7 linked regions of the Homo sapiens genome follow. The protein of the gene in region 6 purifies or fractionates together with the protein of the main gene of each other region. This does not show direct contact. Each region holds a gene or a part of one and is shown on either strand. Other genes may lie near its edges. The genes, in order: EIF4E, GSKIP, AHI1, RPP30, ARL1, SMYD2 and AKAP11.

The links.
Region 1: the proteins of SMYD2 (region 6) and EIF4E purify together in Homo sapiens (co-immunoprecipitation; one large-scale study listed by IntAct). This does not show direct contact.
Region 2: the proteins of SMYD2 (region 6) and GSKIP purify together in Homo sapiens (co-immunoprecipitation; one large-scale study listed by IntAct). This does not show direct contact.
Region 3: the proteins of SMYD2 (region 6) and AHI1 purify together in Homo sapiens (co-immunoprecipitation; one large-scale study listed by IntAct). This does not show direct contact.
Region 4: the proteins of SMYD2 (region 6) and RPP30 purify together in Homo sapiens (affinity purification with mass spectrometry; one large-scale study listed by BioGRID and IntAct). This does not show direct contact.
Region 5: the proteins of SMYD2 (region 6) and ARL1 purify together in Homo sapiens (affinity purification with mass spectrometry; one large-scale study listed by BioGRID and IntAct). This does not show direct contact.
Region 7: the proteins of SMYD2 (region 6) and AKAP11 purify together in Homo sapiens (affinity purification with mass spectrometry; one large-scale study listed by BioGRID and IntAct). This does not show direct contact.

The regions. Positions count from the first base shown.
Region 1 is NC_000004.12:98,919,134-98,922,633, reverse strand, and holds part of EIF4E (eukaryotic translation initiation factor 4E), read left to right. Parts: intron 1-3,500. UniProt on the Homo sapiens protein: Acts in the cytoplasm to initiate and regulate protein synthesis and is required in the nucleus for export of a subset of mRNAs from the nucleus to the cytoplasm which promotes processes such as RNA capping, processing and splicing.
Region 2 is NC_000014.9:96,384,026-96,387,525, forward strand, and holds the end of GSKIP (GSK3B-interacting protein), read left to right. Parts: intron 1-598; exon of another isoform or gene 599-787; intron 788-1,497; coding exon 1,498-1,659; 3' UTR 1,660-3,263; downstream 3,264-3,500. UniProt on the Homo sapiens protein: A-kinase anchoring protein for GSK3B and PKA that regulates or facilitates their kinase activity towards their targets.
Region 3 is NC_000006.12:135,459,741-135,463,240, forward strand, and holds part of AHI1 (jouberin), read right to left. Parts: coding exon 3,385-3,500; intron 1-3,384. UniProt on the Homo sapiens protein: Involved in vesicle trafficking and required for ciliogenesis, formation of primary non-motile cilium, and recruitment of RAB8A to the basal body of primary cilium.
Region 4 is NC_000010.11:90,885,474-90,888,973, forward strand, and holds part of RPP30 (ribonuclease P protein subunit p30), read left to right. Parts: intron 1-338; coding exon 339-428; intron 429-3,500. UniProt on the Homo sapiens protein: Component of ribonuclease P, a ribonucleoprotein complex that generates mature tRNA molecules by cleaving their 5'-ends. Also a component of the MRP ribonuclease complex, which cleaves pre-rRNA sequences.
Region 5 is NC_000012.12:101,401,273-101,404,772, reverse strand, and holds part of ARL1 (ADP-ribosylation factor-like protein 1), read left to right. Parts: intron 1-1,826; coding exon 1,827-1,908; intron 1,909-3,500. UniProt on the Homo sapiens protein: GTP-binding protein that recruits several effectors, such as golgins, arfaptins and Arf-GEFs to the trans-Golgi network, and modulates their functions at the Golgi complex.
Region 6 is NC_000001.11:214,335,395-214,337,631, forward strand, and holds the end of SMYD2 (N-lysine methyltransferase SMYD2), read left to right. Parts: intron 1-1,309; coding exon 1,310-1,390; 3' UTR 1,391-1,737; downstream 1,738-2,237. UniProt on the Homo sapiens protein: Protein-lysine N-methyltransferase that methylates both histones and non-histone proteins, including p53/TP53 and RB1. Specifically trimethylates histone H3 'Lys-4' (H3K4me3) in vivo. The activity requires interaction with HSP90alpha.
Region 7 is NC_000013.11:42,306,652-42,310,151, reverse strand, and holds part of AKAP11 (A-kinase anchor protein 11), read right to left. Parts: intron 1,699-3,500; coding exon 1,543-1,698; intron 1-1,542. UniProt on the Homo sapiens protein: Binds to type II regulatory subunits of protein kinase A and anchors/targets them.

The sequences.
Region 1 (3,500 bases), on a different chromosome or scaffold from region 6:
CATAGCACTTATTCTATGTTAAGTACCACACTGAATGCTTTACATATATTAACTCATTTATTTCTTTTTTTTTTTTTTTTGAGACAGCGTCTCACTGTTGTCCCAGCTAGAGTACAGTGGCGCGATCTCGGCTCACTGCAACCTCCGCCTCCTGGGTTCAAGTGATTCTCCTGCTTCAGCCTCCTGAGTAGCTGGGACTACAGGCACGTGCCACCACGCCCGGCTAATTTTTGTATTTATAGTAGAGATGGGGTTTCACCATATTGGCCAGGCTGGTCTCGAACTCCTGACCTCGTGATCCGCCCACCTCAGCCTCCCAAAGTGCTGGGATTACAGGCGTGAGCCACCGCGCCAGGCTAACTCATTTAATTCTTAACAGTACAGATGAAGTAACATTGTGTGACTAACTTGCTCCAAAATCACACAGCTATTAAGTGGTGGGGTGGAGTTTAAATTAAAGCAGCCAAAGTGCAGAGTGTATATTCTTAACCGTTGCACTCTTTCAAGTAGGCATGTAATGTGCTTTGCTTGGGTGACTTCAGAAGGGGAGATGTGTTTTGATAAGCTTACTATGTGTTTTGCTACAGCTATAAAATAAAACGTGTGGGCATTTATTTTTAGGCCCTGTTATATTACAATGTTAGATAACAAAAATATATAATCTTGAGGACTAAACCAAGCAATTACACCAATCGTGTTTTAGTAACTAATTGAGAACTTTGTGGATTTCTAAAGAAAGTGGATGGACACTTAACCTTCTCCCCCTTTCTAATTTGATTTCTGGCATTTGCTAGTTCGTATGATTTCCCAGTTAAAATATTTTGCTAGTGAAAAAAGTTTTAGTACATTTTTAAAAGTTTGTGAATTTTGGATTTATTCTAGACTTAACTACCTTAGTACTTTTAGTAATTTTGGTGATAAGTCTGGCAAAGGGTAAAACAGTTGTTTTGAAAAAGTTTAAGCTAAAATGTACACATACGTGTTTCTTGGTGTATTTTAAGCTTGTTACTACAAAATGCTATACAGAAATTAGTTGTAATATTTTTTTCTGTGCTCTGCTCATTACTGTCATTGTAATCTCTACTAAAAATACAAAAATTAGCCAAGCGTGGTCACGGGTGCCTGTAGTCCTAGCTACTTGGGAGACTGAAGCAAGAGAATTGCTTCAACCTGGGAGGTGGAGGTTGCAGTGAGCCGAGATGATGACATTGCACTCCATTACTGTCATTGTAATGAGCAGAGCACAGAAAAAAATATTGTAACTAATTTTGATATATATGTCTACATATATATGTCAACATATTAGTATTGCCGTGAAACTTCTTATGGGGCAGTAAGCCTATGTTGGCACAAAATCTGGTCAGAAGTATTAACTAAGGCAAGAAAGTTTGATATTTTAATTGATATGTGAAATGTATATTTTTTCTTATAGTTCTTTTTCTGATGAATAAATGAATACTTTATAGGTGAGGAATTCATATTTCAAGTGATTTTTAACTTTCTACCACGGTCACATAGTTCCTTAAGTGTTACATACAAAGTTTTGGTGCCGCAAAAGGAATAGCACTTGAATATAAAATTTTTTTTTAATTTTTAGCAAGGCAAGTTATTTTTATAGAACTCATAATTAACATAAGTGAGAGAGAACTCAAACCTGAGTGTCAAGCTTTATTACTATCTTGTGTAAAAAGAGGAACAAATTCAACCAAAACTAAAGTCCATCCTTCAGTAAAACTTGTATGTTAGGGTTGATACTGATGCGTAGGTACACAAATAAGTGTAAAATTCTAACTGAAAGAATATGCCAGATGGTTTATGGATGGTGGGATTAGGAGGGTTAAATTTTTTTCATTTGAACTTGTATACTTTGTTACCATGTTGTGGATTGTAAAATCTGTTTTGGATGTTGGTTTATACATCATGGTATTTAGCTTTTCTTTATTTTTTGTTTTTTTTCTTTGACTTAGTTACATACTCATGGTCCAAAATAGCAATTTGGTAAAGCCTATAGCCCCTATCTTAGAGTGTTTTAAAATGCAGGCCAGGCACAGTGGTTCATGCTTGTAATCCCAGCACTTTGGGAGGCTGAGATGGGCGAATCACCTGAGATCAGGAGTTCGAGACCAGCCTGGCCAAAATGGTGAAACCTTATCTTTACTAAAAATACAAAAATTAGCCGAGCGTGTTCATGGGTGCCTGTAGTCCCAGCTAAGGCTGAGGCAAGAGAATTGCTTGAACCTGGGAGGTGGAGGTTGCAGTGAGCCGAGATGGTGCCATTGCATCCAGCCTGGGCAACAAGAGTGAAACTCCGTCTCAAAAAAAAAAAAGAAAAAAGAATGTTTTAACATGTATTACATAAAATGCATAGGTTTACAAAGGAAACCAATTTATACTGAAGTACAACAAGGATTGAATTAGCATGAGTCATATTAAGGACATTATCTGGCACAGGCTAAGTTCTGTCTAATGTGGAAAACCTATCTCCTGCCTATCTTCCCCAACCACCTCATTCCCCTTTCCAAATTGCCCAATTACAATTTTTTGAGGATTCTACTAGAAAAAGTCTGTCCAGGAGAACTTTCTGAGATAATGGAAAGGGTATTTTTTACTGTCCAATACAGTAGCCACTGGCTGTACATGGTAATTGAGCATTTGGATATTGTGGCTTGTGCAACCAAGGAAATAAATTTTAAACTTTATTTAATATTAATAATTAACCACATGTAGGTAATGGCTACCTAATTGTGCAGTATGGCCTCAGAAGCTAGAAATTCTGGCCGGGCATGGTGGCTCACGCCTGTAATCCCAGCACTTGGGGAGGCTGTGGCAGGTGGAGCACTTGAGGTCAGGAGTTGGAGACCAGCCTGGCCAACATGGTGAAACCCCATCTCTACTAAAAATACAAAAATTAGCTGGGTGTGGTGGCACGTGCCTGTAGTCCCAGCTACTCGGGAGGCTGAGACAGGAGAATCACTTGAACCTGGGAGGCGGAGGTTGCAGTGAGCCAAGACTGCACCACTGCACGCCAGCCTGGGTGATAGAGCAAGACTCCATCTCAAAAAAAAAAAAAAAAAAGAAAAAGAATCTAGAAATTCTGGTGTGTGCAAATGTATGTATACATATTGTATTTAGTTCAACTTTATAAGGTATAACTGGATATGTCCAGTTTGGTTAGATACATGATTCTATCCTAGAAAAGCTTGTCGCTCTGTATTTTAAACTTTGAAAGATAGTTATTTACTCTTGTATAGAATTAGAATTTTTCTGTGGGTTAATGTTTTTTTTTGTTTTTTTTTTTTTTGCTAGTCTTTTTGTTTCTGTTTTTGTTTTGAGATGGTGTCTCACTCTGTTGTCAGGCTGGAGTGCAGTGGCACGATCTCGGGTCACTGCAACATCCACCTCCCGGGTTCAGGTGACTCCTGCCTCAGCCTCCTGAGTAGCTGGGACTACAGGTGTGCGCCACCACTGCCAACTAATTTTTGTGTTTTTAGTAGAGACAG
Region 2 (3,500 bases), on a different chromosome or scaffold from region 6:
CTGCTTCTTAATCTATAACTTGGAGATTTAAAAAAAACTTAAAACGATTTGGGGAATGATTATATGACTGTATGATACAGAAAGATCTGAACCATATGTAAAACCTGACATGTAGTAGGTGCTCAAATATTTGTTTGTTTTTCAGTCTGATTCAGTTAACATTTATTGAGCAACTATCCTGTGTCAGCAATTGAAAATCAAACCATGCATAAGACATGATCCCTGTCCACCAGGAAGATCACAGTCTAGCAGAGATAAGAGGAAGAAGGCAAACTGAACTGTACTCCACTGTAGAGAGTGCAGTAATAGAGCATGGATCTGAAGAGGTGTGATTCATTTTCCTTAGGTGTCTGCCTCTGCTTTTCATTTAAAAAAAAAAAAACTCAGCTTCTATTTCTAACACAAACTTTCACCTCCTATGGCTTAAATAGATGTCATAAAAATTTAGGATTTATATAGGGAATGTACACACTTAAGTCAGCAAAAACTAAATTAATTTTGCCCTATATTGTGCTGGTGAACCATGATATACCTTATAATCTTGTCAAAAAGAAAAGTTGTAGCTGTGTTCACAGGAAAAAAAAAAAAAGAAAAACACATGGCCTGTCAGCCTTTTGCCTAAGATCAATTGGAGTATCTTTTCTTATCAGTTTAATATCTGTTATGTCCTCTATCTAAGGACAATATATTAAATGGATTTTTGGAGCAGGGAGATAGAATAGGCTCTTGCTCCATTAACTTCACACATCGACCTGGTATTGCAAATACCTCCAGAAATAGTGTACCCCTACCAAGAAAAAAAAAACACATTAACATGTTCTTTTATCTCACAGAATTGAGCATTTATTCCCTGTCAGGTAAGAAATATATTAGGTGAAAGTGGCCTTTCAGATTACTAATAATAAAGCTAAACAGTTATTAAAACTAATAAACTATTAAACCAATTATTAATAAACAATTATTAAAATTAACAACTAATTATTAAAACTAAATTATTAGGAATAATTTTTAGAATTGTTTATAAAAGAAGTGAAAAATAATGAAAAAAATATGAACTAATGATATATTACCTATTATAGTACTTAATATAGTGGACCCTCAATATATGTGGAATTAAATGGGGTAAATAATAGATGCATGTTTTAGAATATGAAAATGAAATACCATTTTTGTGTAGCTTTTCAAATTCTTTCTCTGCATTTCCTTGAGCTTCTAAGTAAAACCTTTTAAATGTTGAAAATTCTATAGGGAGCATTTTAGTGGTGTTTCTGTGTTATACATTATAAGTTGCTGAAGTATTAAAGGTTGTATTTAAAATGTGTATACTCTGACTTTGAGAAATAGTTTCACTCAGTTACCCATGTATCTGGTGGTCTAGTGGCTAGGAAAAGAAATAATTTATTTTTTTGAAAGGATGATTACTCACATAAACACTTGGATTTTGCTTTCTGTACCAACATGAAAACTAATGAATTCACTGTTGCATTTCTCTTGTAGGTGGTAGGCTATGCTTTTGACCAGGTAGATGATCATTTACAGACTCCCTACCATGAAACAGTCTACTCCTTGTTGGATACACTCAGCCCCGCCTACCGAGAAGCATTTGGAAACGCACTGCTTCAAAGACTGGAAGCTTTGAAAAGAGATGGACAGTCATGACTACACTTTTTCCTTTCAGAGGGGCTGGTGCTGGTACAGAATGTTGATATAAAGCTTAAAATTCTTGCATATGGTCATAGAAAATGCATCTTTGGTTTTGTGTTTTTATCACTTGCTTCCAACTTAGGCTTTTGGCTCAGAAGATTATTGAATAATGATTTGTCTTAGTTTCTGTTTCAGTAAGGGAATTCTGAGGCCGTTGCTATGATACCATCATTAAGACATTCACATGTCTTCATATAATATCTCTTCATTTCAAATCCTAATCACTATTTCATACTATTACAGGGCTTTGATGCTGCCAGCACTGTCTTTTACATAGGAAATTCTAGATTTGCACAGTAATAGAGGAATTAGAAGTACCTAACTATACACTTTGATTCAGCCTGCTAAATCAGGGGTTCAATACTAGCTTGGACAAACTTTGTAGTAATTAATTGCTACCAGCCTTATTGGAAACAAATTATCAACTAGTTTCCCCTGCACAAATTTTGAAATTCACTGCTTCACTTAATCTATTTATATTACTAATAATGGATTAATAAAGATGAATTAATTATATATTACTTAACTAGTATTAAATGAAAAACAGGGACTGAAATAGTTCTGTATTCCGTGTTTGCAACAGCCAGCCAACTAAGCAGAGGATAAACCGTTAGCAAATGAATGTAATAATTACTCATTTCCAAGATATCTAAGCACATAAGCAAATACAGGAACAGACTTCATTCTTTTTCTTAACAAAAAAGCATCTTCAGTGTGTGATTTAAAAGAAAGAAGATTCTGGTTTCCTAGAAAACAATATTTTGGCCTGTGTTGATTCTTATTCTGAATGTGTGTTTACATAATGTACAGTATATATTCAGAAAGTATTTTTGCTTCAACGTTTACTTTCTATGATGTAGTGCTTTGGTATTCCTACAGCACCCCACCTTCCCCAACAGATGTACAGTGTTCTGTCTCCATTCGAAATCTACAATGTAATATGAGTGCATTGTATGGGTTTGAAACCAAAGGATGAATGAAGCATTCAGAGACTTAATATTTGAAAAAGGAATAGTCAGTATTTTATATTTTATTACAGGTACTGATATTTATAAATTTAATAAACTGTACCATGCTGCTGCATGTTTTCAAGTACATGTTGAACAGTAAGGATTGGGGAGTTGTTTTTTAATGGTCACCTAAAGCAGCTGCTATAGAAATGTTGAACTAAAATTTTGCATCTGGTCATACCTTCATGCATTTATCATTTGCAGATATTTTTCCATCATTATTAAAAAACAGGAACTTTTAGGCTCTGAAGATCATGTGGACCAGAGCAAATTAAAGTTCAGTTTGTGTCACAATTCATTGCCAGACTTCATTGGAATGCTTTGTTTGATGATGTATGTTCATTCTCAGCTTTATTTTCAGATGCTTAACTGGGCAACGAAGTCTAACTTCAGGTTGAACTTTCTCATGTTTAATCTCAGGCTAAATGTAAATGATATTTGTAAAGTTTGAATAAAATTCTGTTTACTCATTTTGAGTTAGTATGAAAAAAAGTGATTGTATGTTTAAGAATTGAAATTGTTCATTTTGTGATAAATGATTAATTCCAAGAGCTTGTTTCCATTTTTTAATTCTGCATTGTTACATTTGGATTTGAAATGACTGAAGTGAGCTTTCTCTTGTTACTACTATGAAAGAGCAATGAGGAACAAGAGGAGAGGACATTAATAAAACTACACAGATATACATGAGAATCTAGATATTAAAACCTCCATTTTACCTGGTCTGTTTAAAGAACTTAACCAGCAGATAGGCCAGGTGTCGTGGCTCACACTTGCAATTCCAGT
Region 3 (3,500 bases), on a different chromosome or scaffold from region 6:
AAAAAAAAAAAAAAAAAAGATTGATAATAAAGAGATTAAATCTTGATTTGTATCAAGGCAAGCAAAATGATAAGGCATAAGGACTGAAAAAGAAGCGATAAAACTATCGTTATTAACGTATTACATGATTGCATATGTAGAAAAATCCAAACAATGTAAGAATAAACTCTGTGGGCCGCGATAGCTCACATCTGTAATCCCAGCACTCTGGGAGACTGAGGTGGGAGAACTGCTTGAGCCCAGGAGTTTGAGACTAGCCTGGAAAATGTAGTGAGACCTTGTCTCTACAAAAATTAGCCAAGAATGGTGGTGCATGCCTGTAGTCCCAGCTACTTGGAAGACTGAGGTGGGAAGATCGCTTGAACCTGGGAAGTATAAGTTGCAGTGAGCTGAGATCACGCCACTGCACTCCAGCCTGAGTGACAGGGCAAGACCCTGTCTCAAAAATAAATAAATAAATAAACTCTTGCAATAAGTGAATTTAGCAAATCAATGGACACAATGTTAAAAAATTTTAAATACATTTCTACATATATGTACCAGCAACAAATACAAAACAAAAATTTTTTAAATGCCATTTATAATATCATTAAGAAACATCAAATCCCAGGAATAAATCTAAGGAGAGATTCTGCTGAAATGTATATTGCTGGGATATATTAAATAAGATGCAAATAAATGGAAGTGCATACCAAATTCATAGCCTGAGAATCAATACTGTGTAAAAATGTCAAGTCTCTTTAGAGAGTTGTTATGCTGTGACTCTTTAGATTCACCCAGTCTAGATCAAAATCACAGCTTGCAAGACAGAATGAGGGTAAAAAGGAAGAGGGAGAATGGAGAAGCTCTTCTAAAATCCATACAGAAATGCAAAGTAAAGAATAGCCTAGACAATGCAGATGAAGAAGGAAAAACCTAGAGTATAATACTAAATAGCAAGACCTATTAAAAAGCTACAGTATTTAGACATGGTAGTGTTGGTACAAACTGTCTAATTTAAAAGAATAGAGACTACAAAAACTGATCCACATGTAACACAGTCATGTTATTTATGGGAAAAGTGACACTGCAACACAGAGGGAAAAAGACACTCTCTTCAGTAAATGGTACTGGGTCAATCATAATATATATTCACATGGATATCTTGATCACTGCTTCCTATCATAAACATAAACCAATTCCTGATGAACTGCATATCTAAATGTGAAAGTAAAACAGAAACAGTAAAACTTTTAGAATAAAACTTTTAGAAAAATATCTTCAGAACTTAGGAAAGATTTCTTAAATCACAGCACTTACCATCAAAGGAAAAAAATGGATAAACTGGACAATACAAAAATTTCTGTTTTTCAAAAGACACCAATGAGAGAGAAATAATCAAACCAGAGTAGGACGACATTTGCGATATAAATGTGGGTAGGTATTTATATCTGAGAATAATCTCATATTGAGGTATATAAACCTATCACTACAAATCAATTAGAAAAAGACAATTCTGTGTTTTAAAAAATGCAGACAACTTGAATATATTTACAAATGTCAAAATCTAAGTAGTTAATAAACATGAAAACACTCAACTTCAATAGTTACCATGGAAATAAAATTAAAACCAAAATGAATATCACTATACATTCCTGAAGAATGAGGAAAATTTAGTCACTCCTAAGAATGACTAAAACGTTAAAAAACAGTATTACATGTTGGTAAAGATGTGGAGTGACTGGAACTCTCAAACACTGCTAGTGTCAACTGGTAAACCAACTTTGGAAAACTGGAAGTAATTATTAAAGCAAAAAATATACATAATCTATGACAGCAATTCTACTCCTAACAATATGCCCAAGATAAAGGTATGCATGTGCTTACCAAATACGTGACTGCAATGTGAATTACCGCTTTACTTATAATTGCCTAAAACTAGAAACAACTCAAATGACCATCAATAAAATAGGCAAATTAACTGTGGTATATTCACACAATGGATATCTAAATAATACAAAAACAGAATTAAGAATGAATAAGCTCAACTGTATGCAAGCAACAGTAGTATAAATCTTACAAAATTAACATTGAGTAAAAAAAGTCAGGCACAAGGAGCACAGTATTTATCATTCTATTCATATTAAAGTATAAAAATAAGCAAAAATAAACTCTGTTAGATGTCCAGGTAGTGGTTACTCCCACAGGGCAACTAACGGGAAGGTGATTTTTCTGGGTGCTAATGATGTTCTGTTTCCAAATTTAGGTAATGATTTTATAGGTATGTTCAGTTTGTGAAAAAAACTTTAAAAATATGTATATGAGTATACTGCTTAGTGCTTTATATATATAGAAACACATAAAACAAGTATACTGCTTAGTGCTTTTCTATATATATCTATATACACATTATGCTTCAACAAAAGATTTTAAAATTTTAATTATAGAAACCACAAAACATCATCACTTACATCTTCTAATGAATAAGTACTATAAAATCTAAAATTGCCCATTTTAATCCCAATTTTTGGCCAATCAAATGGAAACTGAAAGACTAAAAAAGGATGTATGAGTAGAAAAGAACATGTAAAGAAAAATAAGAGAAAACAAACAAGAAAAGAAGAAGACAGAAATCAACAAGGCAAAGAGAAAAGTTGAGAAAGGAAAGAAGTGGTATTAGGCTGACGAATTGGGAGGATACCATGTTGGACAGGATGCAGCCTTAACATCAGAAATGTTTATTGGCTGCTGACCATTTATAGCTTTCAACAACTGAGTCCTAACCATTTAGAGGATGTAAACTCAATGGTTTAAAGAAGAAATCCTCTATGACCCAATAGCAACTACAAAGTCAGTATCATTTTAGAGTTGAATTTAAAGTATGACAAGAATCAGAGAAGGTCAGGCATGGTGGCTCATGCCTGTAACCCCAGCATTTTGGGAGGCTGAGGCAGGTGGATCACTTGAGGTCATGAGTTCGAGACCAGCTTGGCCAACATGGTGAAACCCCGTCTCTACTAACAATACAAAAATTAGCCGGGTATGGTGGCATGCATCTGCAATCCCAGCTACTCAGGAGGCCGAGGCAGGAGAATCGCTTTAACCCGGGAGGTGGAGGTTGCAATGAGCCGAGATCGTGCCACTGCATTCCAGCCTGGGAGACAGAGTAAGACACCATCTCAAAAATAAAAAAAATCAGAGAAGACTCAAGTGATACAAACTCATCAGAGACCTACAGCTACAAATACATGTGTGCTTTAATCTAGATGAATTCAAGAACAAGTACCAAATATCCTATATTGAATTATTTTCAAGTATACCCATCAGTTTTAAAGGGCTAAAATTCCTAGAATCAAGTTATTTCTACCAACATACACAATTTTTCATTTAATTTGTATAGCAAACCTGCTTTAGTCTTCTTTTTTGTTTTTTTTGGTTTAGGTTTTGTATCATCTTGCATGCTGTCTTCTGTGCTTTGTTCCATTGAGCTTATTTCATCATCTTGATGAGAATCTGAAGAA
Region 4 (3,500 bases), on a different chromosome or scaffold from region 6:
TTTCTGGGACAGTCTGAAGTAACCTTCCAGAAACTGAGCCTCGCTCTGCAACCCATCCTTATGTAGAAGACCATATGAGTTAGAGAGTCTCCAGGCCCTATCTTTTGAGAAAGTCTGTGGACATATTCCGCTTTTGCTGGATTACAGTTAAACCATTTAAACCAAACCTAAAAGAGTAGCAAAACAGTTGACTTTGTAAAAGGTCAGATGTATTTCAACACAGAACCATCAAAACACCTATGGAGTGAACCATACTTTATATCGAGTTTGACCCTATCTCCCATTCTTACTTGTGCCAATTTTCCTTTTGGCCTTACCTATTTTTTTCTTCTTTACAGATTGCTTGCACACATTTAGATGTGGATTTAGTCTGCATAACTGTAACAGAGAAACTACCATTTTACTTCAAAAGACCTCCTATTAATGTGGTAAGTGTACTTTCCATTCTGTATTTGAATCTTAGAAACTTACATTAGCAAATTGGAAAAGAAGCAGAAGAAATCAGTGTTCTTAGAAGGAAAAACAAAGGCTAGGGAATAGGAGGCAGTTTTAGAAAAGAGAATTTTCGTTTTGAAAGCTGAACAAAGGGAGAAAGAAAGCTTAAAATTAAAAATATCCAGTTAATTATTAAGATGTTTTTAAAAGGCCATAGAACCCAAAATTTATAAAGGATATTTCTTAAGAGGATAGCTAATAATCATGGGTACTTATAACCTGAACATCAATTATTAAGGGAACAGAGCAGTCAAAAAAGAAGAGGAAGGGAAAAAATAAAAAGCAGAGGATCCTTGAGGCACCAGGAAGCTAAAGAGAGTCAAGAGGGAACAGGGCATGGCATCACATAGACGTGGTCTATGCAAAATTAAAATCTGTGTTGAAGCATGCTTATTCACAAAGAGCCCAGAGTTACTTTTATATGAACCTAATAGGATGGCCATGTGTTCAGAAAACTTTTTTGTTTCTCCCTCTGCTATAGAATTTTTCTCATTCCCCTTCTACATAGTTTTCTCTTGTTTTCCCATACCCTTCATCTTCTATCTGTCCATTCCTTCTTCTGTCTTAATTTCCTCCCATTTCCATCATAAGGTAATATTATTTCACACCAGTAACTATTTTAGTAGCAAAAGGTCAGCACAGCTGTTAACTATTTGCTTTGCCAGTCAGATCCTAGGAGGAGTTCAGATGCTATTTTAGAGTAGTGGCTTCCAAAACCCTAGTCTCCTGTTCTCAAAAACTGGTATCCAAGGAGAAAAAAAAGAGTTTAGCAAATACAGTCAAAATTACATATCCAATCCTGTCAGAATCAGAAGATTAATTTTTTTTAAGTTTTTCAAAGGATAATTCCCTTGCTCTTTTGCCTCTGTAGAATCATAACTTTCTCAATTTTAATTCTCTTTGGTGCTAAGGAATTGGCTTGAGAATTAGAGGGAGACAGTAAGAGGAGAAAATGGAAAATTAGTATGTGAAAATTCAGTGTGGCAAAAATTATTAGTAGTAGTAGTAGTAGTAGTAGAGACAGGGTGTCACTCTATTGCCCAAGCTAGAGTGCAGTGGCATGATCATAGCTCACTGCAGCCTCAACTTCCTGGGATCAAGTGATCCTCCTACCTCAGCCTCCTGAGCAATTGGGACTACAGGTGCATGCCACCACACCTGGCTAATTTTTTTATGTTTTGTAAAGTTGAGGTCTCACCATGTTTCCCAGGCTGGTCTCAAACTCCTGGGCTCAAGCAATCCTCCCACCTCAGCCTCCCAAAGTGCTCAGCTTACAGGCATGAGCCACCATGCCTGACCCACCCAATGGGGAAAAGTTTAAGTTAGCTTATGTTCTACCCCTAAAAATATGCTACTCAAACTAAAAATATATCATCATATATTTCAAGGGAAAAACATAAAAGCTCTTGTTGGGTAAATTTTTTTTTTTTTTTTGAGACGGAGTCTTGCTGTCACCCAGGCTGGAGTACAGTGGCACGATCTCGGCTCACTTCCACCTCCACCTCCCTGGTTCAAGCAATTCTCCTGCCCCAGCCTCCTGAGTAGCTGGGATTACAGGTGCACACCACCATGTCCGGCTAATTTTTGTATTTCTTTTTAGTAGAGATGGGGTTTTACCATGTTGGCCAGGCTGGTCTCAAATTCCTGACCTTGTGATCCGCCCGCCTCAGCCTCGCCAAATGCTGGGATTACAGGCGTGAGCCACCACACCCGGCCTAGGGTAAATATTGACAGTACTAGTGAACATAACAATATTGGCTGAGCTCAAATCATTGGTTCCTTGTGTTATTGCCAGTACTTATAAATAAATAAGTAAACAGTGAAAAACCACTGAATCACCACATTTTCGAGTTGGAAATCTATGTTGTGCAACAGTTCATTTGTCAAATGTGGGGAAATGAAAAACTACAAGAAGTCATTCAGTTCTGTAGTCACACAGGGTTAGGAAAGTTCTGATTGGTTGTCTGTCAAGATCTCTGATGTGCCCCAGGTACCTATGATAAAAGCCACAAATTAATACAGTACTCAAGGTTATGGCAGTCTTGTTGGCCTCACATATTGTTTCTCTCCAGAGGTAGCAATCTCTGTCTTTAGAAGTTTGCCTAACCTTTTTACCAGCCTCAAACTGCCAATACAGTTTCTGTGGAAGTAGCACCCCCAGAGTTGGGCACTATAGCTACTCAGCAAATTGCTAGTGAACTTGCAACTTTTTCACCTTTTTCTTCATCTTAATGAACTAGGAAGGTCATTTTCTAGATGGCTTTGCCTGAATAAGCCCACATACGATACTGTGACCTTTGATGGGAGGAGCTAGCATGTGATGTTAAGGCCAAGTCCATGGAATGGACAGCAATGCACAACAGATAATTCCTCATGTCTCACGACAGTGGTAAGATTCCCAGTGGCTGCTTTGGTGAGAGCTTTTAATTGGGGTTCTTAGGAACTTGTATTATTATTTAAACCAGAGTGTGAGCTCCTAGAGAACACCGGCTGTCATGGTCCTTTTTTAAGTACTCCACTATCTTGCGTATAATGAGTCCTCCTTACAGTTTGTTGAGTCAATAAGTACATGTTGAACTTAGCATATCAGGGTACAGCATAGGGGACCTGGCCAAATTCTGCTCGTTGTTAGTCACCAGCTGGATGTCCACATTCATCAGGAAGTATATGCCGTGAGGGAAGTGGGGCAGTGGGGCAACATGAGGAGGACAGTGGCACTCAAGACAGTTGACACCAGGACACCCCACCCCCTGATTCCATTGGGAAGTTCAGGAAAGCTCCTTTCGTTTGATGGGCATTTTTCGCTTAATTCCTACATTTTTCAATTTAAGAATTCTGAAAAGTAAAAAATTCTGTCAAGTGAGAGGGATATGCAGTTTAACATGGTGTCTGCTTTAAAAAAAATCTGGTGTGAACATTTTGCATATGTTGTTTAATAAAAACTAGATGATGGAGTGGAAAGAAAGGCTGCACAAGATTATTTTTAGTCTTCATCTAGTAGAAGA
Region 5 (3,500 bases), on a different chromosome or scaffold from region 6:
CTGTTGTTATTTATACTTTTTTCATTTGTTGCCTTGAATTTACTTAGAGAAGAGTAGTACATTTAAATTAAAGAGTTCATACAGTTTGCTCAAGATTTTTTAAATTATGCCTCTAATGTTAGTCTGTCACTCAGGGTATTTCTATATTGTTACTGTTTAAATTTATGGACTAAAACGAAAGAGGCTAGCCTCTAAGAAAGAAGAGCGTTTTGAACCCTGTAATGTCTGTTATTCCTTTTTGCTACCTTCAGTAAATTTTAGTGCCCTTAGTTTTTGCTTCTCAAAATCACCCATCTCTGTCTGGGCATCTCCTGCAGTGCACAGAGCAGCACAGTGGATAGTTTGGAGTTTCAGTGAGTGCTGCTTTACACCACACTCTTTGTTGAGACAGTGTCTTGCTTTTTTGCCCAGGCTGGAGTGCAGTGGCACATTCATAGCTCACTGCAGCGTCTACCTCTACCTCTACCTCCTGGGCTCAAGCGATCTTCCCACCTCAGCCTCCCAAAGTGTTGGGATTACAGGCATGAGCCACTGCACCCAGTCTACACCATTCTCTTGTCTTGCACATATAAACGATGTTTTTTACTGTTGGTGAACATTGTGATTACACTCCTACCTAATTCTAAGGGAGACATCATGAACTTGCATTTTAGTTTTTTGCTCAAATTTGTCATAGTATTGTTATTTTTTAATTGTAATAGACATACTTGCCAAATACTCAAAGGTATCACTTACCACTGCAGACTTAAATATAAAACAAAAGCTAATTGTCCAGTTATACCTGGAAGTTATTTTTTATTTATTTATTTTTTTGAGACAGAGTCTCACTCTATTGCCCAGGCTGAAGTGCAGTGGCAAGATCTCGGCTCACTGCAACCTGTGCCTCCCAGGTTCAAGCGATTCTCATGCATCAGCCTCCAGAGTGGCTGGGATTACAGGCATGTGCCACCACACCCGGCTAATTTTTGTATTTTTAGAAGAGATGGGGTTTCACAGTGTTGGCTAGGCTGGTCTCGAACTCCTGACCTCAGGTGATCCACCCGCCTTGGCCTCCCAAAGTGCTGGGATTACAGGTGTGAGCCACCGCACCCAGCCATGGAAGTTATTTTTTACCTATTTTTCACCTAAGAAGGATGGCAGAGAAAAGGGATGGGACACCTGCCCTTTGACCACCCAGCCATGACCTTATTACAAGTGAGTTCTGGAGGATGTCTGCAGATGGGCTGTGAGATTGAAAGCTGCAGCCATGGCTGTGTCCATGCTGTAGTTTAGAACTGAAGTTTAGCTTTTTTTCTTTTGGTCTGTTTATTTGCTGCCAGCCAAAATTCTGCTTTTTATAGTACATCCACAACTGTACTTTCTAAATACAGCTTTCGAACACTTTTAACTACTCTATTATGAGGGGAGTTTAATATAATAGGATTTCCATTGAGCTAAAAATTATGTTTTCCTTTTTATTTCTTTTTTAAATTCTTTTTTTAATTTATTTGAGCTAAAATTATATACTTTATTTGCAGAACTGCTGGCTTTTAAAAAATATCCTGAAGATGGTATTGATCTTGCTAATTGATGTTTTGTGCACACACCTGCACATGTGTGGGGGAGCAGAGCATACTATTTCGTCTTAAATGGTATAAAATCTCAACCAATAATGTGATTCAACAATTACCATTTCTTTTTAACTCGAATCCTAAGACAAATTATATATATATATATTTTAAACTCTAATAACAGTTACCATTAATTGCTGTAACTCAATTAGATAGGATATTTTGAAGGTGGAATGTATTAGTCTACACATACCACTGATTTGATTTCTCTTCCAGCCATTGGATTTAATGTAGAGACGGTGACGTACAAAAACCTTAAATTCCAAGTCTGGGATTTAGGAGGACAGACAAGTATCAGGTATGGTACAAAGACCAGGTTATTTGGTAGTATTTGACATTTATTGATTCTTTTAAGGGTTAAAATCAGTAAACCCGAATATGTGTTCTATTGTAATTTAAATGGAGCCACCTAGTTTAAAATGAGGTAAAATTGGGAACTATTTCCTTAGAGCATCCATTGAGTTAAAACTTAAGGAAGCCCAGTTTTCCAGATACCTGTTTAATGAAAATCTTTTCACGAAAATCTCAAGACCTTATTACTTCAGCTATTCTCAATTAGAAAGGACCCTCCATTTAGTTCTTGTCAGTCTCTCCTCTCTGAAACACATTGTTTTGGAATTCATTAAAGTACCTTGCAGGCATACCATTTAGGGCTAATATAAAAATAAATGCCATTGGCCGGGCATGGTAGCTCACGCCTGTAATCCCAGCACTTTGGGAGGCCGAGGTGGGCGGATCATCAGGTCAGGAGTTGGAGACCAGCCTGACCAACATGGTGAAACCTCGTCTCTACTAAAAATACAAAAATTAGCTGGGCATGGTGGTGCGTGCCTATAATTCCAGCTACCTGGGAGGCTGAGGCAGGAGAATTGCTTGTACCAGGACTTGGGAGCTGGAGGTTGCAGTGAGCTGAGATCGCGCAACTGCACTCCAGCCTGGGCTACAGAGCAAGACTCTGTCTCAAAAAAAATAAATGAATAAATAAAAAATAAATGCCTTCTGAAGTTCAGGTCTTCTGCTTAGCATTTTGGGCTTGACATGGCAACAGTGAATGTTTGATGACCGTCAGTAGTTGGTCACGATAGTACCATCTTAAAAGATTAGTAATGCATTCTCCAAACATTCTGACTTCTTTTAACTCATTTCTTGAATCACGTTTCTTTTTTTTTAAATTGTGCAGCCTCCCAAGCCAGAGTAGGCTCAGAGAGACTCCATTGAATCACTTTTGAGTTTATTTATAATTTTAGCCATTTCTACTGCTTGATGTCAGTGATTAATTTCATGACTGTTAAATAAAATCACGTTTAAAAAGTTTATTCCTCTTAAGGGGTGCCTAGTTAAAGATTTGTTTAAGAAGATGTAATGATCAGGTCTGTGTACAACTTTTCTATCAGTATATTTAGTGATTTCATAGATTATAAATAAATTTTGTCAGCCTGAAGTCTGAATGAATTCATTTGGAAACTCCCTGGTCCTGTGAGTCAATGTTTATCAACATTCTTTTTTTTTTTTTTTTTTTTTTTTTTGAGACAGAGTTTCACTCTTGTTGCCCAGGCTGGAGTGCAATGGCACCATCTCAGCTCACTGGAACCTCTGCCTTCCTGGTTGAAGTGATTTTCCTGCCTCAGCCTCCCGAGTAGCTGGGATTACAGGCACCTGCCACCATGTCCAGCTAATTTTGTATTTTTAGTAGAGATGGGGTTTCTCCATGTTGGTCAGGCTGGTCTCGAACTCCCGACCTCAGTTGATCTGCCCTCCTCAGCCTCCTAAAATGCTGGGATTACAGATGTGAGCCACCGTGCCCAGCCAATGTTTATCAACATTCTTTTGACTCCATCACATCTGAGGGATATGGTACATATATCCACCAGAAACAGTGAATCATTAAGG
Region 6 (2,237 bases):
TCTGAGCAAGGAACATGAGTCTTGAAATGAATGCCTGGGCAGAGTCGGCACCTGGAACAGGTGATTTCCGAAGGCTTGCACTGTTACTTGGCCTGCCTCCTCTTGGCTTGAGATCTAGGAGGAGAATATATAATAGATAGGAATGCCTGTCATAGTCACAGGCCATTAAAAATTCTCTGGGGGAATACTTTTTTCTCTGAGTAATTTGGCTGAATACAAAAGAGCAAATACATTCTTAGAGATGACATTTGATATAAACTTCCTGTATGCCAGGCGCTGTTCGAAACACTGTATCTGAATTAACAACCCTGAGAGGTAGGTATTATTCCAGTTTTACAGTTCAGGAAAATGAGGCACAGAGTGGTTAAGTAAATTACCCAAGGCCACACAGCTAGGAAATGATTAAACCACTGGAAACTTGACCATGTTACATTGCCTCACTATAAAGAAACCTTAAGTACATTCTCTAGCATCCCTCAATGAAACCTGCTACCTTTCTTTTAAGTTTTTAGAATATGTATTAAAAGGAAAGAGTATGCTTTTCGAAAGGGAAAAATAGTTTAGCTACGTCTTGCAGGTTAGTAATGTCAACTAAAAATCAAAATAGCTTTGATATAAAATTCACTATGGACTTTACCAGCATCACCTATTTTCTGGGTTGAACATAATCAAAAAAATTAGTCCTTAAAGCATGTTTTACTGAAAGATCTAGAATCTTGGGGCAAGAGAATGTCATGAAATCAGTTTCATGACATCGTTTCTCCAGCTGGATATTTTTGCAGAATGTTTTACCTAGCAGTAGACACTGGATGAGTTAGCTACCAGATGGTCTTCTCCTTTTTTAAAAAAAAACCAAGGCCAGGCACGGTGGCTCATGCCTGTAATCCCAGCACTTTGAGAGGCCAAGGCGGGCGGATCACGAGGTCAGGAGATCGAGACCATCCTGGCTAACACAGTGAAACCCCGTGTCTACTAAAAATACAAAAAATTAGCCAGGCATGGTGGTGGGCGCCTGTGGTCCCAGCTACTCGGGAAGCTGAGGCAGGAGAATGGCGTGAACCCGGGATGCGGAGCTTGCAGTGAGCGGAGATCGCACCACTGCACTCCAGCCTGGGCGACAGAGCGAGACTCCGTCTCAAAATAAATAAATAAATTAAAATAAAAACAGGTCCTGGTGGAGAACATAGGCTCTAATGGCCAGTTTGCATCCTGTGCCTTAAAGCAGAGAGATCCAACTTAAAGTTACCCTGGGTGGAGGTGTGAGGAGATTGGCTTCTAGGCTCTCATTGTTTGTCTTGCTTTTTCCTAGGCCATTGCAATCATGGAAGTAGCTCACGGCAAAGATCATCCATATATTTCTGAGATCAAACAGGAAATTGAAAGCCACTGAAACTATGCAGCATTTCAGTTTTCATTTAAACACTTAGTTCAGAAACCTTAAAGGATTTGAATATTTCAAATTGCACACGTCACTCCAGCATCTCTGTAAAATAATTGGAATGAAAATACTTCTTGCACTTAAACACTGCACATGCCGTACTTTGAGGTTAGTCTGAATCTTGAACTTTAATACCAAATTAATTTTGAATGCTTTTGTTTCCTAAGAGATAATGGCATGGTTTCATATGTTATACTTTGGACAGACAGAGTTTTAAAAATGGAATTATTTTTTCTTTCATGCCTCTTGTAATGTTCTGAACAAACTTGAATGATGAAAGTATTAAAGAGATATCAGTATTTGAGGTTTGTATTTTCTTCTGTCTCTGGGGAGGATTTCTCAGTGGTGGTGGGAGCCCAGTCTTGGAGTGAAAGTGACACCTGCTGTCCATAATTCAGCAAGCTCAAGTCTTCTCCATGGGACTGGGGTCGGGCAGCCTCTTTATTCTGCAGTTGCTCTTGTGGGGCTGTGCCTGTGGAGGAAGAAAATGGGAAGAAAGAGAAAAAGGTACACGAAGGAAAGAAAACTATCATCTATCTGTGGTGGAGGAACAGTCCAGTGACCCAAGTGCCCTCCAGCAGGCGAGGTTTTGAATCTGTTCTCTGGTGCCTGGTATTCCTTCAGTGTGTAAAGGTGCTTAGTGCGTGCTTTGCTTTCTTGGCTTTTCTGTCCCCATCTGTCTGAAAGCAGACTTGCCATCTCTCATTCTGTTGATTGTTCTGTGCAGTACTCTCCTTTTTGGAAAAACTCCAGGGTATGCTTGGGAAGGAAAAAAATGTTTTTCCTTACCAACCAACGC
Region 7 (3,500 bases), on a different chromosome or scaffold from region 6:
ATTTTCTGAGCCTAAATGCATTTATCCATGTTAAACATAATTATTTTAACCTCAGCTTGATTTGGTCTTTTTAACCTTTGTTCTGTTAATGAGATTCTTTTTTCAGCCTGTGTTGAATCATCCACAAATGAGTATTCCACATCATTAATAAATAATGCTAAGGAGGACAGAACCAAGGACAGAAACCGGTAAGACGACTCCTTTTTCTCATCAAATTAGATAATATTCAGCACAGAGTTGTTCAACTGACTACAAGTCCTCTTAATGCTTAAAGCCTCTACCCACACCTCAATCTCCCATTTTAACGCCAGGATTTCCTAGGCAACACTGTCAACCCCACTGAAATCATAGAAGCCTGTGTTTCTCAAAATGAGAGAAGAAACTAAATGTTAGTATCCTTTTCTAGATAAAGTTATAGAAAAGGGCCAAATCATGATTTGTGACATTGCCCCCACTTGCTTCTACCAGTTTTAAACACTGTCTTTTTGGACCTAGATTTTAAGAAATATTGGTGGTTTATATAGCACCATAATAAACTATGACAAAATATACTTTACAAAAATATTAATATTTCCAGGTTAATCCAAGCATCGAACAAAACTCTTCGAGATGAAGTGTTCTATCAGGTGAAAAGCCATTTCCTTTCCTTATGCTACCTCATTCCCTTTTCCAAGAGTTGCCTTCCCTCCCACACCTAGTTTGCCATTTCCAGGGGCTAAGTTCAACTGATGGTCCACAGGTCCTTTCCACACATGCCTGAAACCAGCAATATGCTAAGAACCCTTTCCTCCCTCAAGACTCTGCTACAAATGGTATCTATTATTTCCAGTTATCACTTAATGTGGATAAAGAGTTTATAGAATTTTATAGGTTAGTCAGAAATGCCTTTAGGTAGAGGTTAAGACTATAAGAAACAACTGTCTCATAATTAATAAAATATTTCAAACACCACTGTTATGAACAAAGTTAACTAAGAAAAGTTATATATGAGGTAAGTGCCTTGTGCTATACAAAATCACATTTTTATAATGGCTTTGACTTACGTATTTTCAATCATTCAAGCATAAGTCTTCCAGGTCATTTTGTTCCTAACAGCAGGACAAGCAGGGACCCTCGCCCCACCAAAAAGATACTATTTTAACTAATGTCAGGAAAAGTACAGGGCTACTTTGATGCCTTTTACAGATACCTGTCCTTTTTCTTGTTCTTTAAAGAAAAAAAAGTACCCTTTTTAAAGTGAAAAAAAAAATTTTTCCTCAGAAGTTCATAAAAAGTTTGGGAGAAGCTTAAAAGGCATAAAATTAAATGTATGCAATATTTTTCAAATCAACTATTGGCACACCCCAATAAAATTAGCTGGGCTACTTACTGTATTAAATAAGTGTTAAAAACAATTAGAAATACATTGTGAATAATAAAATACATTTTGAAAGTAATAGCATATTTTCAAATTTAGAATTTTTAAATAATAATGTAAATTTATAGCTCACTTCTAAGATCTGAGGACCTAAACTACACAATTATATGCAAAAGTGTAGTTACCTTTCACTTAGATGATGAAAACTGCTGCTTTCATCTTGGTGTTCATCTTCAAAACTTAAATTGGACCAGCTACCAGTGCTGTCATCACCAATACTGAGGTTCATCTGCTGGCTACTGACAGACTCGGTTGACTGAAAGTCTTCTATTTCTTTTGAACTAAAAAGAAGAAAAAAAGAAAAAAAATCAAATTGAAAGCATCCCAGATTCTGAACTTACAAGACTATCAATTTGATGACAAAGATGATAAAAACAAGAAATGGTATTCGGAATCAGACCAGTGGCTCATGTAATCCTTTATTTGAGTCTGCCAACAAACAGACTGTAGGATAGCGTATTAATTTCAAAGTTAACTGAGGTACCCACCAACAGCCATAACTTACTTTGTTAATCTACAATGGATCTATCCCTAGGGCATTATTTCTCTAAATTCTACTTAAAGCAGTTCATTTTTCAACTGAGATACCATGGGGCAGTACAAGTTCCTAAGTTATCATCTGCTTTGTAAAACAGTACTTTTATTTATGTTAAAGGAGTCTCTTTCTGGCTTTAAGAACAAAAAAGTCGTTCAAGAAATTCTAGTATTGTCAACCAAGCCTGTATTCAAACTAACCAAATCTCTTCAAGATTTTGAACATAGATCATAACCCCTTTCATTTTTCTCAATAAGAGGCATTTATACTTTTATTCCATCATCACAAGAAAGTCCATTCACTGCTCAACTATTTTAATTGTCCCACTACATTTTATGTTCAACAAAGTAGTTCAAAGTGATGTTTCCATAAAAAGAAAAAATGTCAGTCTTCGGATCAAAACCTTCCAATGGCTTCCCACCAAGCCGAAGAGCCCAAATCCTTAAAACATACTGCCTGTCCCCTCTTATAACATCCATCTGAACTCCTACTGTTCTCCCTGGCCCACTCCTCCTATGTTCTCCCTGGCCCACTCCTCCCACTTCAGCAATACAAGCCTCTCTGTTGTTTCCCAAACATGCACAGTCCCACCCCTAGGCCTGGAAATCTGTTCTCGGTGACTCCCACATGACTTATTCTCATTTCACTTTTGGTTTTTGGCTCAAGTATCACTTTGCCAGTATTGTTTCCCCTGCTACCTATCCAAAACTGTAAACCAGCCCTAATGGCCACCGCCACTGTCACCACCAGCACTCTCTAACTCCCTAACTCCCTACCTTGCTTTATTTTTCCCCCAAAGCACTTATCACTATGTGACATACTATATATTTTACTTACCTATTGTCTTATTCCACTATAACATAAGCTCCAAGAGAATGCAGATTTTTGCCTGTTTTACTTACTTCCGTATCCCTAGTGCTATCCTGAGAATAGCCCCTGAATTGCCCCCCATTTTTTCAGCTATTCTAATTTTGTAAGATACAGAATGATACTGAGCATTCCAAGCATAGGCACATTATAGTTCTGAACCATTGATAGATTACTACTTTGTTTTTTTGAATACTTTTCCTAATATGTGCCACATTCTCATGGTTTTTGGCTGAAATGACCCAAAGGATGAGGTCCAGAGAAGAGTTTATAATGACTGTGAGGTTATTTTGGCTCGGAATGATAGCTTAGAATATAATCGTTTTGTTGGCTAAAAATGCACTATCAGCCAGGCACGGTGGCTCATGCTTGCAATCTCAGCACTTTGGGAGGCTAGGGCAGGAGGATTGCTTGAGCTCAGGAATTCAAGATCAGCCTGAGCAACATAGTGAGATCTCATCTCTACAAACAAACAACAACAAACAAAAATGAATAAAAATGTACTATCACATAATTTCCCAATTGCATTCACATGCCACCTCTCTGTTCATTACAGTTTGTGAAATATTTATGGTCATGTTCATGAATCAAACAAAAAGGGACATCAGGTGAAATAATACCTTAAAGAATAATCCATCTGAATGAATCTCCTTTCAAGTTTGAAAGACAAATTTAACTTTA